Regions from separate parts of the Homo sapiens genome. Here region 1 is linked to region 2. A link means that fine-mapping ties the variant in region 2 to the plasma level of a protein whose gene starts in the linked region. Region 2 holds a variant in brackets. A gene starts in the other region. All regions are shown on their forward strands.

Evidence for each region. PIP is the chance, under the fine-mapping model, that this variant and not a neighbour inherited with it causes the effect. Protein levels are from antibody-based Olink assays in UK Biobank. Linkage for the fine-mapping came from a reference panel and not from the study's own genotypes, which makes the PIPs less certain.
Region 1: LPO starts here. The variant in region 2 is fine-mapped to the plasma level of the LPO protein (UK Biobank, PIP 0.98).

What each region holds. Positions count from the first base shown.
Region 1 is chr17:58,237,168-58,240,075 of GRCh38, forward strand. It overlaps LPO (lactoperoxidase), which reads left to right and starts at 1,417. Exons shown (of 13, transcript NM_006151.3): 1 at 1,417-1,572.
Region 2 is chr20:33,288,719-33,291,626 of GRCh38, forward strand. BPIFB1 (BPI fold containing family B member 1) reads left to right here. Exons shown (of 16, transcript NM_033197.3): 3 at 23-164; 4 at 1,167-1,274; 5 at 2,239-2,388. Among named protein-coding and RNA genes, the nearest start is that of BPIFB1, 7.0 kb to the left of the region's middle. RefSeq lists enhancers at 902-1,862, 1,863-2,823. The variant A/T (reference allele first, on the strand shown) is at 1,189.

The DNA.
Region 1 (2,908 bases), not on the chromosome of region 2:
CTCAGAGGCAAGAACCTTGAGAAACATGTGCCAAAGTTCAGGGAATGGTCAGACACAGAAAAACAATGCTTGGCTAAGGAGCTGAAGTGTGTTTCAAAGAAAACAAGAAGAGCCTGATGTCTCATTCACCTCTCCTGGACAGCTGCCTTCTTCCGAGATGCCCAGCTTATTTGCCTGGATTCATCACGAGAGAAGTAGTTTTTAGATATATTCCACCATCTAGAGAAAGGAAATATCACTTTTTTGAAGGCGAACCAAGAAGTCTGTTTTGGGGTTGATAAATTTCTGACAGTTGCTCCCAGAGTATTTTCAACTCAAAGTATAATTTCATAAAGAGGCTTATTATGTTTTAAATTGTCTGTCTGTAAAATATACTTTCATGAAATTTTGTTTTCTCGGAATCTTCCTTTTTCCTTCTTGTATGAATCTAATGAACTTGAATTTCCAAAGTCATTGAGGTAGGAAAGGTATGTAACATTATGCTTGAGCTTTAGGTCAATAATTTATACGATAGTGGTGGTTTTGTTTTGTTTCGTTTTGTTGAGACAGAGTCTCGTCCTGTCACCCAGGCTGGAGTGCAATGGCATGATCTTGGCTCACTGCAACCCCTGCCTCCCAGGTTCAAGTGATTCTCCCACCTCAGCCTCCCAGGTAGCTGGGATTACAGGTATGCACCTCCATGCCTGGTTAATTTTTGTGTTTTTAGTAGAGACAGGGTTTCACCATGTTGGCTGGGCTGGTCTCCAACTCCTGACCTCAAGTGATCCACCCACCTTGGCCTCCCAGATTCTGGAGTTTTTTAAATGGGTCACCCTATAGAAGGCATGAAGTCATAGAATCATAATAATCACCAAAACCAACCATTGATTTCAATACTAGAAAATTTGAGACACCAGAAGGTGAAGTGACTTGCCTAGAGCCATACAATGGCAGAGGCAGGGACTGCAACCCACTATGAAAGCTTAGGGCTCTTCTCACCCTTTGGTGGCCAAAAGTATTTTGAAATTTTGACCAAAAAAATTAATGTTTATTGATCACTTTAAATCCAAAAGATGAATCCACTGGATTCCACAGTAAATTGGGTGGAATGTAAGGGAGGGATCAAAGGGCAGTGAATATATGAATGGGGAGGAGAACCATTTAGCTAGGTGCAAAAGTAATTGCGGTTTTTGCAATACTTTTGCACCAACCTAATAATTGTTCATAATTCTAAGAGCTATTCGGATCCCATTAGGAGCTTAAAAGGGACAAATGTGCTCAGGGCATGCAGTTTTTGCCTTCCGGAACTAGATCAGGATCATGCATTTAAGCTAGAAAATGGAAAGAGGAGTTGCTTCACCCACAGTCAGTGCTATTGCATCAACCAATCCCTGCCATTCTGCAGTTTCCTGGTGTATCTGCCCGGAGTCACACAGTCTTTCCTGCTAAGCCTCAGCGTCTCCTCCAAGCCACATCAAAATCTTTCCTTCTGGGCCTTTCCCAGAAGTGAATTCTTGCTGGAAGGTATAAAAGACCAGCTCCTCCAAGCAGAGCAACTCCCTGGCTGCCGTGAAAAGACAAGGCACTGGGCAGGTAAGACTCGTCAACTTTCATCTTTCCTGGTTTCTGCAAAGTTGATGATGAAATTTCCTAACGTCTTCTCAGAAAGCTTAACACTGGATTTAGACTTGTCTCTATCAGGCACTTTCTGGTGCCAGCTTTAGCCACCCCATGGCACACTCCTCTTGTTTGGTATAAGAGAGAATGTAATTAAGCCTCCCCCCACCACTGTGGGGGAAAAAGGCTTTTCTGTGTCTGAAAACTATGTCAGAGAATCATAAACTCTTAGGGCTGGAAGGTACCATAGACCTCTCTTATCCACCTTGTTTAGGAACTGAGACTTAAGCAATTTAATGTGTCCAGAGTCACACAGGAATTTGGGGGAAAACAGTGACAGAATGGTGCTCCCTGTGCTGTTCTTGAGACAGTGTGATGAAATCTGGCCTCTCCACTATAGTGGAGATTTTGCAGTGTTTTAAGGGGTTCCCTAAGCCGGAGCTGTCAGGTCTTCATCTCATTTCCAGCATCTCATGCCTGCCATCTGCAGCAGATCCGACCATCTAGTTTGCCCTCAATGTCTAGTCCTAGCTGTCTTAAGTGCCCTGTGGACACCTGGCTCTCAAGCAGGTGTGTGACCTGTATGCAGCGGTAGTAGGCAGGCTTCATTTTGGGGGAATGGGGTGGTTAAATTATATTTGTTTTTTATGCAATTGTGTGCCTCAAATCTTTCAGTTGAAGTAGATTATTTCCGCTCTAGAGGGCTTGATAAGAGCTATCTCTTCATTCTCATCCTGATCTTGGAGTCACTCAAAAGATCAAGAGAGTGTTCCTGCAGGTGATGGGGCAAGAATTATGGCTTTCCTATTGGCTCACTCCACCACCCTCCACAGGGCTCTTTACAATCATGGAAGAGAATCTCACTGACTTCATCCCTTCTCAGGCCTTCCCCCTATCTCCTTGGTGACTGCTCAGCGACATTGAGAACCAAAGTCTGGAAGGCCTTGGTACTCAGAGTGTGGTCTGCAGACCAGCAACATCATCATCACCTGGAGCTTACTGGAAATGCAGACTTTCAGGCCCCTTCTATGACCTTCTGAGTCAGAATCTGCATTTACCAAAATCCCTAGGTGATAGTAGGCACATTACAGTGTGAGAGGCTTGCCGAGGGACTATCTCTGCCCTCTCCCTCTGCAACCTCCAGATGCTGAATTTCTCTGCTCTAGGAGTTTTATTCATTCAGCATGCACCCAACACCTATTATGTATTGACATGCTTAGGTCCTGGGAAAACAAATAAATAAGATGGAGCCCTTGAGGAGTTCATGGTCTGATAGGGGAAACAGATGTGAAGACAGTAATATGAGATATGG
Region 2 (2,908 bases):
AATCCCTGGGGTCTGCCTCCAGAGCTGACACAGGAGCTGAAGGACCACAACGCCACCAGCATCCTGCAGCAGCTGCCGCTGCTCAGTGCCATGCGGGAAAAGCCAGCCGGAGGCATCCCTGTGCTGGGCAGCCTGGTGAACACCGTCCTGAAGCACATCATCTGGTGAGTGGAGCAGGACCACACCAGGAGCTAGCCCCTTCCCACACCTTTGCCCGGGACACGCTCTGCATGCTCAGTCAACCAGTCTGCAAGCATCGACTTGTGTCAGATCACAAAGAGTGGATCAAACAAAGCCCCTCCGTCAAGAAGCTCCCAGAATAGTTAACAAGAACCATAAGACAGTGACACAGGAACCCTAATACAACAACCCCAGAGCAAGGCCAGGGACGGTGGCTCAAGCCTGTAATCCCAGCACTTTGGGAGGCCAAGGTGGGTGGATCACCTGAGGTTAGGAGTTCGAGACCAGCCTGGCCAACATGGCAAAACCCCATCTCTACTAAAAATATAAAAATTAGCCAGGCATGGTGGCAGAAGCCTGTAATCCCAGCTACTCAGGAGGCTGAGGCAGGAGAATCGCTTGAACCTGGGAAGTGGAAGTTGCAGTGAGCTGAGATGGTGCCATTGCACTCCAGCCTGGGTGACAAGAGTGAGATTCTGTCTCAAAAAAAAAAAAACAAAAAAAAAAAAACAACCCAGAGCAAGGTTGTCTGGGGTGGCACAGGGAAGGGATGAGGTGATGCTTCTCACTGGAGGTGACAGTGGAGCCGATGACTCAATGCTCACCAGGAGACAAGAAGCAAATGGCATCCAGGTAGAAGAATCAGGCTGGGCAAAGGCATGGAGAAGTGACAGTCGGTCAGAATGGCTAGAGCTCAAACCTCAAGGCAAGGAGTAAGGGATCAGCAGGGTCAGGTCACAGAGGGTCTTATGAGTCAGCTCAAGGAGCTGGGAGTCACCACCTAGAAGAGAAGGCACCATAATAGCATTGTGAGCAGGAGTGGAGGGGAGGGATGGAGGCAAGACCATCTGGAGAGGAGTCGGTGGGCAGGGCCAGGGTCCCGCTGCTGCCTAGGCACCCCAGGGAGATGGAAAAGATAGAGAGGGAGTGGATTTGGGAATAATGAGCCGGAGGCATGATTCTGATCTCTCCTAAACCCCATCCAGGCTGAAGGTCATCACAGCTAAC[A/T]TCCTCCAGCTGCAGGTGAAGCCCTCGGCCAATGACCAGGAGCTGCTAGTCAAGATCCCCCTGGACATGGTGGCTGGATTCAACACGTGAGTGACCCCTCCATCAAGTACAGTAGGCTTGACAGGCTCATCTGCTCGTTCCCCCTCCCCCGCCCCCACCATGCAGGTGTCTGGAAAAGAGAGTTCCGAGCAGAGAGAAGAGCAAGTGCAGAGGCCCTGTGGCAGCAGTGTACTTGCCTTGCTCAAAGAATGGCAAAGACAGGGGAAAGAGAGAGGGGGCATGGTAGGAGATGAGGCCAGCAGGCAGCCGAGGCCAGATCATACAAGGCCTCTTGGGAGAAGATAAGGACTTGGCTTTTGCTGAGTAGGACGGGAGCCAGGGAGGATTCTGAGCAGAGGAGGGATATGCTGTGCTTTCACATTTTTAAAGACTCCTGGCTGCTGTGGGGAAAAAAGACTTTCTGGGGGTAAGAGTGGAGACAGGAAGGCTATCCCAAAGCTACTGCAACAATTCAGGAGGAGATAATGATGGCTTAGACCAGGGTTTGGGGCAGGGAGGTGCTGAGAAGTTGATTGGATTCTGGATATGTTTTGGAGGTAGGTGGGGACACCAGGATATCCCGGGGAACTGAATATGCATGTGTATTCAGGGGGAAAGAGAGAGAAGTCAACGATGACTCCAAGAGTTCTGCCTGCACCACTGGCAGGATGGAGTGGTCAGTAACCAAGACAGGCAAGGCCATGAGAGGAGCAGGTCTGGGGAAGAGCCAGTCCAGTGTTGCATGCGCTAAACTTGAGAAGCCCGTGAGACATCGGAGTAGGGGGCTGGGGGTAAGTTTGGAAGCTGTCAGCAGACGAAAGACGTTTCAACCAAAGAGGAGTCTGAAAACTGAGCCTGGGACATGCTGGGGTGAAGTTGGGTGAAGATGAGGAGAAACCAGCAAAGGAGACTGAGGAAGGAGGTGAGGGCTGGAAGACAGAGACGGACGGCAGGGTTGCTCCAGCCCGAGCTTGCCTGGTGCTCACATGGTCAGGTGCCTCCACCCGCTAGGCCCCTGGTCAAGACCATCGTGGAGTTCCACATGACGACTGAGGCCCAAGCCACCATCCGCATGGACACCAGTGCAAGTGGCCCCACCCGCCTGGTCCTCAGTGACTGTGCCACCAGCCATGGGAGCCTGCGCATCCAACTGCTGCATAAGTGAGTGTCGCTGGCCACCAGCCGGGCTCCCATCCTGCCTGGAAGGAACGCCAGGCAGTGGACTTCCCCCATTTTACAAATGGAGAACGCTGAGGCCTAGAGAAAGAAAGGGACTTATCCCCTCCTGATTCCTGATCTGGGGCTCCTTCCAGGGAATCTGTGATGCCAAGGGAAGTTCAGGACATCAAGGTCAGAAGCAACCATGGTGGGTTTCAGGCATGACACCGGGAGGTGGGGCAAATCTTTGAAGGGGGAGGCCTAGAAACTCCTCCAAACACCAGGGCAGGTGTAGGTGGAGCCAGGGGCAAAAACATAGGCTTTGGGTCAGGCCAACACATTCTCTTCATTTGCTCTCCGGGTGATGATGGCCAAGTGGCCACCCTGTGTCTCACTTTCCTCACCCGTAAAGTGCAGGTAATGACACCTTCCAGGCAGTGGTGAGAAAACTGATCAGACAACAGCCATCAAGCACTCAGAACAGTGCACGCGCATGGTGGTGCCAAAAAACATGGCGCCCCCC